Linked DNA regions of Homo sapiens: region 1 is linked to region 2. The links come from fine-mapping of genetic effects on gene expression. A gene starts in region 2. The other region holds a variant in brackets. All regions are shown on one strand. Distances are between the middles of the regions.

Region 1 (5,374 bases), 59 kb before region 2:
GTCTGCATGCACCGGTAATCAGAACGGAACAGAACAGGACAGGGATTTTCACAATGCTTTTCCATACAATGTCTGGAATCTATAGATAACATAATTGGTTAGGTCAGGGGTCGATCTTTAACCAGGCCTGGGGTGTGGCACCGGGCTGTCTGCCTCTGGATTTCATTTCTGCCTTTTAGTTTTTACTTCTTTCTTTGAAGGCAGAAATCGGGCATAAGACAATATGAGGGGTGGTCTCCTCTCTTATTCCCCTCCTTTGAGAATCTCACTCAATAGTGGGAGTTCTCACTTTCATTCTCACTACCCATGTCTTCTTGCAAGACATATCGATAGTGATTCATATAGTACATGTGTGCTGAAGCATTTTGGTGAACTAAGGTAGTGATGAAGCTTTTTATCATTTGAAGAAGTACAGGTAGCAAACAAGGGAGCAGTAAGCAGGTTTCTATTGCTATTATGACTCCTATTATAAGAGTTTTAAATCTTTTGGCACTGGGAACCATTTTCCAAACATGGTCCTAGGATCAAATCCATGGCACACTTGCACATTTGGCACATAACAAATTTATGTGCCAGTTTTGTCATATTTCCAACTATGTCTTCAACTACTTGCCCTTGATCATCTATGTGTAGACAGCAATTAGTAAGGTTAAATTTTCTACAGACCCCCTCCTTCAGCTGCTAGCAAGTAGTCGAGAGCCAATCTATTTTGATAGATAGCATTTCTCATCTGAGTTTCTTGCCAGGCCAGAATAGTCAAGGCTCTGCCGGTCTTATTAGTGATTATTTCTAAGACAGCTTGTAACCGTATGATTTGGTTGAGCATGTAAATGGGGGTCCAGTATCCCCACAAGCTGTTTTGTGCCCATGTACCAGGCCTATAATATTGTATGATTCTCTCAGGGGACCATTCATCATCTTTCCAATTTCCTATAGCTATGCTTCTCTTTTTGCGGGAAGCCCAGGAGTTCGCCTGTCTTTATGGGCAGTAGGAAGAAAGATGGTTTAATAGTGCCAATAACAAAACTATCTGCCCACTGGTCGGGTAATTTGGCATAAGGTCTATGCCCACATATACAGTATAGTCCAGTGGGGGCTGTCCAGTCCCGGTGGGACTCCAGGTTGGTCTACGCGGTTTGCAACTTTGGGAATTTACTAAATGGATTTTTCTTAGTATGGTTTGAACTCCACTAGGTGGCTGTTTTTGTAGTACTATTATACAGTTTTTGCTCAAGGCAGCTGAGTCTTCCCATAGGAAGGGTGAAGTCCTCCCCCACTCTTGCTATACAGTATTGTCTAACAATTAAGGCTTTTAGGACCTAGAAGTTATCAGGGTGATTCTTTTGAATCGGGAATTTATCAGGAACTGGGTCTGTAGGTATTAATTCTCGGGCTTCCCATGGCCATTGATCTCCCAGTACAGTTCCTCCACATACATAACATGAAGTGACATTGAGAGACTGGGCTACATGCTCAGCTAATTGCAAAAACAAATTTCTTGTTTTTCCTGGAATTTCTAGTACTGGTACATTCAGTTCATCATAGAAGGTTTGAAATACTGGCTCAGGAGAGCGTTTATAAACTTCTCCTCAAACCACAATATTTACTTGAGGATCCAGTCCGGCCCTATCAATTCCTAGGGTTACAAGCTCCCCTTTTTTTCCAGTGAGGATCAAGGGAGTTGGTTATTACTAGTTCTAAGGGATTACACTGACCACTGGTACAGGAAGGGCCACTTTTCCCTTTCTGAAGGTGGACAGGATCCTTTTCATTTTTTTATCCAAGTAGCTAAATGACACAAGACCAGTATCCATATTTATTTCCACACAGTCCTAATTCATGACAAATGTACTTATTTTCTGCCATATAGCCTCTTTCCTAATTAACAGAACCACATCCTATTCCTAACTTATTATTATTAATGACAGCATAGGCATCAAACTTCAAAACGACTTGTTTGGGCACCGCTTTTTATTTTGTTTTGGCTAACACTTTACTCATATAGTTTATGAGCCCCCACCAGTCCTCAGTCCTTAATCTTGTTTCAAAAACTGTGGTCATGGGAGGCTCAGATGGGTCATAACACACATCAGGTTGGTCATGTCCTGGGCTACATACCTTGTATAGAATAGCATTATATAAACAAGTTCTTTTTAGAGTCCCGGTACACTTATAATAACCATAAAGTAATAGGACTGTAGCAACTTTTTGTCCTACCTCAGTGACTTGACGTATACACTGGGAACTGTCCTCAGTCTGAGGAAGGTCAGTTGAAGTCCTTACTGTACAAGTTCAAATTTTATAAAATGAATCCTGTGATGAGTTTTCTCATGCTTTGGCTGAGCGTGGACCAGTCAGCTTCTGGGTGTGACTGGAGCAGGGCTTGTTGTCTCTTTCAGAGTCACTTTGCAGGGGTTGGCAAAGCTGCTCACATCCACATACAGCTCCTAGTCTACTGATGTTCAAGGATGGTCTTGGAGGTTGGCCCCACTAGAATAAACTGAGTCCAATACCTCTACTGAGTCCAATACCTCTACACAGTTACGTTCAACTGGGCTCTCTGATACCAGGAGCAAGGTGG[C/T]GGGGTTTAGGGTGTTGCAGACTTCATTGGTTATGCGGGGATTTTCACATAGCAAGCTTTGGTACTTGGTTAATCTAGCATTTGTTAGCCAATGATGTCCTTTGGTATTCATCAAAGTTACCACAGCATGGGGAGCCTTTATATTCAGGTTTTTCCCAAGGGTTAGTTTATCTGCTTCTTGTGCTAACAGGGCCATTGCTGCCAGGGCCCTTAGACATGGGGGCCAGGCTTTGGAAACCCCATCTAGTTGTTTTGAGAGATAGGCCACTGGCCTTGGCCAGGACCTCACAGTCTGGGTTAAAACTCCAACTGCCATTTTTTTTTTTCTTTCTGACACGTAAAGTGTAAAGGGTTTTGTGAGGTCAGGTGGCCCAAGGGCCGAGGCCGACATGAGGTTTTCTTTTAACTTATGAAAAGCTCATTGCTGTTGGTTGCAATAGATGTAGTTTATCCAATTAACATTTTTATTAACTGTCACACACCAAAATATTGACTTAAATCCTGCAGCTATTTGATTTCAAGCTTTAAATTGATCTGGTATTCCCCATGGGACTCCAACTGCGTCTAAATAAATGTGAGAGTCGAAAGACCCATAAGGGACTTCTCTCTATTTACAATGTCTTATTTTTCCTCTTTCTGGTAGATAAAATGCCAGGGTGAAAGGGATAGCCAATTGGACTAAAGTACAAGTGCCACTCCAGTTATTTGGCAGAGTGCCCAGTAAAGGTCCACCACAATACCACCACACATCCGCGCAGGGATGAACAAGGGCTGACTGATTGATAAGCTCTTGAAAATTCTTAAGCTCATTGCATCCCTTCAGGTCTCCAATGAACACTAAGTTTCCTCCCAGTCGTGAGAGATATGAAGTGAACTTAGTGTTGGGAGACGGAAGCTGGATGGCCCTCGGGGGCTGACCTGCAGGGTGCCGGACTTTGGTATATAGTAGAGAGAGCTTGGCACGACTTATTACTCCAGGCTGTAGAATCCTGGAAAAGAGCTACCATGCAGCCCACGCCTGGTCAATTGGAGGACCACCTTAGTGGAAAGGGGACAGTCTGGGCCTCTGGCCTGCCATGTGCACAAGCATAACAATTGCTTTTGTTTAATGTGCAGATGGAATATTTGATCCATTTTAACCAGGCATTTGCATCTTGGTATCCTGTCTTAATTGCTAAAGTTTGTTTTAAGACTTTAACTTTTATGATCCTCTAGTAAAATGAATGTATGATTTTAGGAAATTACAAAAAATGGTTGGGGCAGTCCATCCTTGCTCTTTAGTGGTATGCAGAACGTTGGACCAACTATGGCATAAAAGCTCTACACTGGGGGGCAAGAATCCTGGTTAACACTGGAGTCTTTATTGAAATCTCCCTGGATTAAATGGTGCTAATTTACTAATGCCCAGTATGAGGAGAGTCAGGAGGGATGGAGGTAATTTTCTGACATAGAGATCTGTCTTTGACTTAGCAAGTCCTCACAGGGTATAACAAGGCAAGCATTAAATGCAATAGTTTGAGGCAAAATTGACTTGGTTATGTTAATAACTAGATGGTCAGCAATAGAGCAAGGAAAGAAGAAAGAGTAATAGAATAGATGAAAGAGTTAAATTTTTCTTAGCTTTAGTTTGGTAGGGTTTTCACCTGGGACTATGGCCCATGACTCTGGAGGGGGTGGCGCTTTGACTCAGGTGTGATGAGTCCATCCTTTTTCCACTGTACGAATGGCAGTCTCAGTGGTTAGCAGCACAAGGTAGGGTCCTTCCTAGGCTGGCTTGAGTTTTTCTTCTTTCCACCCTTTGATAAGAAGGTGATCTTCAGGCTGGTGCTGGTTTACTGGAAATTCTAGGGGTGGTACCTGTGCTAAAAGACTTTTAGTTTTGAGGGAAAGGAAAGTGGAAGATAAACCAAGTATGTAATTTCTAAGAAATTGACTTTTTGTTTTAAATGTGGGGACATCAACAGTGGACTTTATACTCTTTGGTGCCTTCTTACTGAGAAATTTCCTTTAGCACCTATTTTTATTAGTTTTTAGACCAAAGAAAGCCAAACACCATTTTATATTTAATAATGCTTCTTGTATAATTTTTATACCAGATAAGCTAAATTTCACCTTTATATTAGTGTGTTATTAATGTTAAACTTAATTTTAATAAAACCTTGTAGACATATTTATCCAATTTTTAATATTGGACCATAAGATTTTCATAGACTCTTTTTAACCTTTTATAATTTTTGTTAAAGAGTAGGTTAGTGCTTTAAGAAAAACCCGTTGTGTTTTTACTTTAATGTCCAGTTCACAGAAAAACTGGTTGACACCCCTTTAACTTTAGCTAATATGTTTATACACAGAATTTTCTTTACAAATAACATTTTAAAACTTGCTTAAACCTTCAAAACAATATATATATATATATTTAACCTTTTAGTGTAGGTAAAAATTTACAGTCTTATGCCTCCTTATAATCCTTTTACCAAAGGTATATTTTACTTTCCTTATACACCTTGCACATAAACGGTTTTTTTAATAGTTTTACATTCAGGAGGCCTAGTTACTTTTAAATTATACAACATTTCTTGCATAAATTCCTTTTTTATAACTTTTTTTTTCTCTTTCACGGCTTTCACAGACAATTCTTTGACCTGCTTCAACTTTCAGACTTTTTACAGACATTTCTTTATTTAAACAGCCAGTTGATTTATTTCAGGAGAAGAATTTACCACGCAACATTCTTTTTACATAAATTCTGTCCCCCTTTTTTTCTCTTTTTTTTCTTTTTGAAGCTAACCATTC
Region 2 (5,374 bases):
ACAGCGTCTACTAGGACGTTTTTCTTAGAGTCCGTGTGGGCTCCACCCCTCGGCTTCTCAGTTTGTCTCTCTATCGCTTTCCCAAAACACATCTACATCTGCCCGACGCGCTTCTCCTCAACCATGGGCCTTTGCCCGCGGTGCAAACTGCTTTACGCGCCGCCACGTGCGAGAACCAAGCTCTGCTCCTCAAGTGACGGGGGCTCTGCTCTGCCAGGTGACCGCGCACCATTTCTCGTGCCTGGCAAGCTGGTCCCCTTCTGGGTCCGGGACCACCACGTCCCGGCAGGGCAAAAGCAGCAGGCCGTGGGCGCCGGCACCTGTGGGTCCCCAGGCCTGGGGAGGCAAGGACGCCCAGGAAAGCCACAGAAGTGCTCGCAGAAGCAGCCGCTCGCCGCGAGGCACTTCTGAGTTCCCGGCAGCAGGGGGCACCAGAAACCGTCTGAGCCGTGTCGCGCCCACGCGGCCCGGAGGCTGTGTTATCATTTTAGTTATAAAACCGGAGAACCACCACTCCCTCTACGAGCCTCCCGAAATCCCATTAGCCCGGGAACCTGTGGAGGTCCTTACTGGCATCTCTGCTTTTCAGGCTCCCACCCCTCCATTCTCGCTGGTTTTCCTCTCCCCACTTCACCTGAGCGGGTTTCTTGGCAACCTGCTTTCAGACCATCCCTCACCCCTTCCACGCGTCACCGTGACAGATTCGCAGGAGGCAGCGCTCCCGCCGTCAGTGCCCCCGCACCTTCTTGTGCCTGGCAGGCTGGGAGGTTTGTTTGGGCTTTGCCTTCAAGATCCAGGTCTCAGAGAGAGAAAAAGGAGGCGGTGGGGCGGGGAGACGGGTTTGCTATAAACTCGGTTTTTTTTTTTTTTTTTTTGGCGGGGGGAGGTAGAGACAGAAATTGCTGGAAGATCTATTGCTTTTCTTAACTATGCTTCGTGTCCTTGACTGACAGAGGACTTATTCTCCCCTCAACCCCCCATAACTGCGGGGCCCAAGATGAGGGAAGGAAAAAGAATTTGGGACACTTCTCGCAGGCAAACTGGGAAAGCGGTCTGTTTAAAGGGCCAGGTTCCAGGCCCGAGAGCACCCGAATTGCTAGCGGGAAAGGGCTAGGGACACGGCGGACTTCCCAGAGATCGGACACTTGTTACTTGTTGAAAAGGCGCCACCTTCCCTGACAAAGCGAAGGCGCAGCGAAACAGTACGAGTTTGGTCGAGGCCGGCTTTGACGGCTTTGCGGGACTGGGTGCGTGAATGAGGTTGGAAGAAACATCTCTTCCTTGAAATACCTAAGCATATATTCCAAACACTGAGCAAGAGTCGAGCGCGTTCTAACATCTCCGCAGCAGGGGCCGGAAGAGTTGCCTTTGTCCCCGCCTATGAGCAGAAGGGTCGCGAGCTCTGGGATGGGTAAGCCCCCCGGGGGCGCGCACATGGGTCCTGGCGGCGGATTCTACCAAAGCCGAAACTAGCTGGGCCCCAGGAAGCTGGCGGGAACCCGCGAAAGTCCGTTTCCAGCCCGAAGAGGGTTCGTTTTTCTTCGTTGGGGCAGGAAACAAACCACCAGTGCGGAATTAGCCTCGAGGTGGTGTAAAGTAGTGGCAGTGGTGGTGGGGTGTTTTTGGAAGGCGGCACAGAGTACAGGAGAAAAAGGGGTCATTAAAATAATAACCTCAATGGCCTAGTGGAGTCTCAAGAATACGTTCGAGACAGAGATTTGAATCCAGGACTGGCAAGAAAGCCCCTCTCCTAACCTCGACGGGGATGGTTAGTTGGGGTGGAGGGCGTTAGGAACGTGCAGGCAACCGGGTGAGGAATGTAGCTTTGCCAGACCTCGCCCGGAGGAGGTGAGCCCTCCATTTTTAGGTTCTCAGCACCTTTGCAGCAGCCCCTCCCCCGGCCTGCGCTTTTCCTTGGCACAGATCAAAACAAGCTCAATAGTAAGTTGCACTCTTGGCAATGATAGTATCTCTGCACGTCCAGAGAGGACACATTTCGACGGCGGTGGGTTCGAAGATGACCCAAGCCCTGAATCGTTCTGTGACTTGACGGAAGAGCACCTGGCCGAGTCGGGGAAGGAAACTGCCCCTCTTGGGCATTCCGGGTCCAGGCGCATCTGGGGCTCCACAGATCTTTGCCCACGTGGAAAAGGCAACATGCCCCTCCGAAAGGCCGGCCTCTCTCCGGTTCTACTTTTCTCTCTCCTCGCATAGCTTAGGTTCCCTCTAGTCTTTCCACTTTCTACTCTCACCGTTTGCTCTGGGGTCCAGACGCACCCCTCTGACTAGGGCGCCCTTCAGCCGGCCGCACCCACCCGCGACGCAGGCACCACCCGCTCCCTGCTCCCCGGCCCGCTCCCTCACTTACCTCGGATCGGGTCTCCGCAGACCCTAGGTTGGACATTAACTCCAGGTGCCCCAAGTCCCAGCCAGGAGACCCATCCGGGCTGATGGCTGGAGCGCGGAGCCCCGCCCAACAGGTCAGGGGCAAGAGTTCGCAATCCTGGGGTCGCGCGGGGCAGCAAGGGCGCGCTGGAGGCGGCGGCCAAGACTCCCGCCGCCGCCGCCGCCAACAGGGCGAGGGCTGCCGGCAACTCTCCCGCCGGGCCCCCGCACCCCCAGAAGCCGAGGTCCGAGCAGCCGCCGCTGCTTTGGGTGGGGGGCTGACAGGGCTGCGCGCGTCGCGCTCTTGGCTGGGGCTGCGCGGGCCCGGGGCGCTGCGGGCGGCTCAGCGGCAGCTGCCGCGCTCTGCGCCTCCTCTGGGCGCACTGCCTGGGAGCACGAGACTGGTTTGTCTGATGCTGCTGCCGGAGCTGAGGTCTTGCCTGGAGATCCGAACGAGACACCACGTCAACCGGCGCGGGGAGTCCCGTGAAGACATGAGGGCGCCAGGAGCGCAGGCTGGTCTTCTAGAGCCCGGGCTGGGGGTCCGGGGTCCGGGGTGGGGGAGGGGAGGCGCGGGGCCCCGGGAGGGAGGGGTCGGGAGGCGTCGGCTGGGCCTGGCGGTGGGGGAGGAGAGGAGAGCAGCGAGGAGGCCCTGGAGTTCCCGAGGCGGGGGGCCGGGGTGCGAGTGGGCGACGCGAGGCGCCCCTCCCTGGGCTGCAGGGAGAGCGCTGAGAGCGCGGAGACGCCGCGGGGCTAGCGCCTTCTCCTCTCCGGGTGGATCAAAAATCGAGAGGAATGTGCGGCGCTCTGCGCGGGCCAGCCGAAAGGGGCAATCCGAACTTGACCGCGGCGCCCGCGCCGGGCTTTGCCCCCGCGCGCCGCACTGGGAGGGTGGCGCTCTGCCGGTGCAGGGCAGCGCCGGGCTTTCCTCGCGCCTGTCGAAGGCCGGCCTTCCCGCTCGGGTGTCTCGCCCTCTCGCTTCTCCGCAGGGCAGGAGGCAGTGGCGAGAAAAGGAGCTGCCGGCCGGAGTTCTAGCACCGAGAAGGAGAGGTGCGGAGCGGCCGGGTGAGGGAAGCCGAGTATTTGCCAGGGGACGCTGCGAGTGGGGATGAATTTATAGGGCTCTCACTCCGTGACGTGCCCTCCAGTGGCTTTTCTGATTCGCTTTCTGACCTAAACACACATTAGTTTAGTCCCCATGCTAAGGCCAACACGGTCTCCAAATATCTGCTGGCTGAAGTCAGAGGCTTTGCATATCATGTATTACATGGCAGGCAATGAAGAAGGCTTCTGAGGCTGGCCGGCTCCTCAGTCCTAGGCTCCATTTTCATGCTGTTGTAATCTAATACCAGACATGGGGCAGGCACATACATTCAAAATCCCAATTCCAGAGGCGTAAGATCACTTTATCAGGAACGGGTTAGGGGAGGTTGAGCTAAACCTGCTTTTATCCAGATTTTCGAAAATGCAGATGGGAAACTTCAGCAAGCGCCCACTTGGATGCTGAGTTTCCAGCGATCAGGGGCCCGGCCCCCATTCCAGAGCTCTGTGGATGGGAGAGGTGAGACCTTCTGGGCATTCCTTTTGTTGGTTAGTTCACCACCAGAAGCTGCCTGAGCCTTCTTTTGTAGAGGACAGGAGGAGGGCAAGTCCTTACACACCCTGTGCATGGCTATAACCATAAATACATTTCATTCACATGGGGCATGGAATTGGCTGTACCTCTAAAATAATGTACTAAATAGGGCATGTCTTTGCTAAGCAGAAACCTGTTTTCCGGAAGCCATTGGACCTGAATTCAGTGGGACCTCTTTTATTTTATTAGCTGGGGCCAGGGAAAGTGTAAACAGGCTCAGTTTACGTCCATGTACCTCTTATTTTATGACTCATCCGGTTGTTGGGGAGTATGTGTTCTTCAAGTAGCTGATACAGACAATAGGCAGGGGAAATGCGTGTGGCAGTGTGGGGGGAAGATCATGTATTATTAAACTTCTTAAAAGTCAAAGATCAGCTACTTTGCAGGTTTGTCAGTGAAGCGAGTGTGGGAGGAAAATTGTTCTTACTAACGTTGCTGTGATTTAAGATTAAGCGAAGTGAAAATCGAGTCATCAAAACATACCTTAGCTGAAATTAGGATGCTCTCTGGAGTTCTGCAGAAAATGACATTTCCCTCTTTGATAGATTTATGGTAGAAATGTAGTTAGATTCAGAAATTAGAGGGCAGAATAAGCTTAATATATTTATTGCCGTTTAGCATTGTTTTTGGAATTTGAAGACGACCCTCATCAATGTTCTTACTCTGAATGATTTCTTTATTTTTAGAGGGCTTTTTGCTGGGGATGATCAGCCCGTCCAAGCACCTGCAAATATCTAGCACTTGCTGTGTGCCAGGCAAAGTGCTAGGCCCTGGGCATTGTGCTGATTGGGCTTTTTTTTTGGGCGGGGGGCGGGGGTTGCAAGGAACAGATACCACTGAGGTTTACCCTCAGTAATGGGAATTTACTGTGGAAGGAAGGCTGACCGGAATCTCCACCATTCCGCCACGTGTCTCCGAAAAGCCTTCCGGAAAGGCCACCCAGCCAGGCCTCATGAAAACTGGATTGAAGTTCAGGAACTGGAAGGTCATTCAGGATACAGCTCTGTGACTGGGTTATCTCGCTGCCCCCTCAGCAGCAGGCATCTGCCGATCCCCACTAACGGCTTAGCCGCCAAGGTGATTCAGCTCCTCTCTCGCTGTTTTCCCCTGGGTGTCCTTTGGCTTCTGCTCCTGCTACCAACTGCTCAGCTCTCAGTTGATCTCACATTTAAACTCCTTTAGTGAAAGGATCTAGTTTGTCCTGCTAGGGATTCACCAGGGGTGAGAGTTGGACTGAGCCTTTGTATCAGTCTCCTTACAGGTTGCAAAACACCCTGTATATCCGCAGACCTGGGGGCAGGTGCCTATCCTGGGCCAATCATTCATGTCCAGGTTGTTGGCATCACAGAGTAC

Direction of the effects. Alleles are on the strand shown, and positions count from the first base shown. SD is a standard deviation of normalised expression in the study named.
In carriers of allele C in region 1, the expression in fibroblasts of the gene that starts at base 2,903 in region 2 tends to be higher than with T alone (small effect, 0.24 SD a copy in GTEx).

The links. PIP is the estimated chance that this variant, and not a neighbour inherited with it, causes the effect.
Region 1: its variant is the best candidate, but not a certain one, in a credible set for the expression of GDNF in fibroblasts (GTEx, PIP 0.58).

Annotation. Positions count from the first base shown.
Region 1 is chr5:37,778,273-37,783,646 of GRCh38, forward strand. No RefSeq gene overlaps it. Among named protein-coding and RNA genes, the nearest start is that of GDNF-AS1, 59 kb to the right of the region's middle. The variant C/T (reference allele first, on the strand shown) is at 2,582.
Region 2 is chr5:37,837,139-37,842,512 of GRCh38, forward strand. GDNF (glial cell derived neurotrophic factor) reads right to left here and starts at 2,903. Exons shown (of 3, transcript NM_000514.4): 1 at 2,369-2,903. GDNF-AS1 (GDNF antisense RNA 1) reads left to right here and starts at 2,746. Exons shown (of 4, transcript NR_145476.1): 1 at 2,746-2,900. RefSeq lists enhancers at 300-369, 1,827-2,764.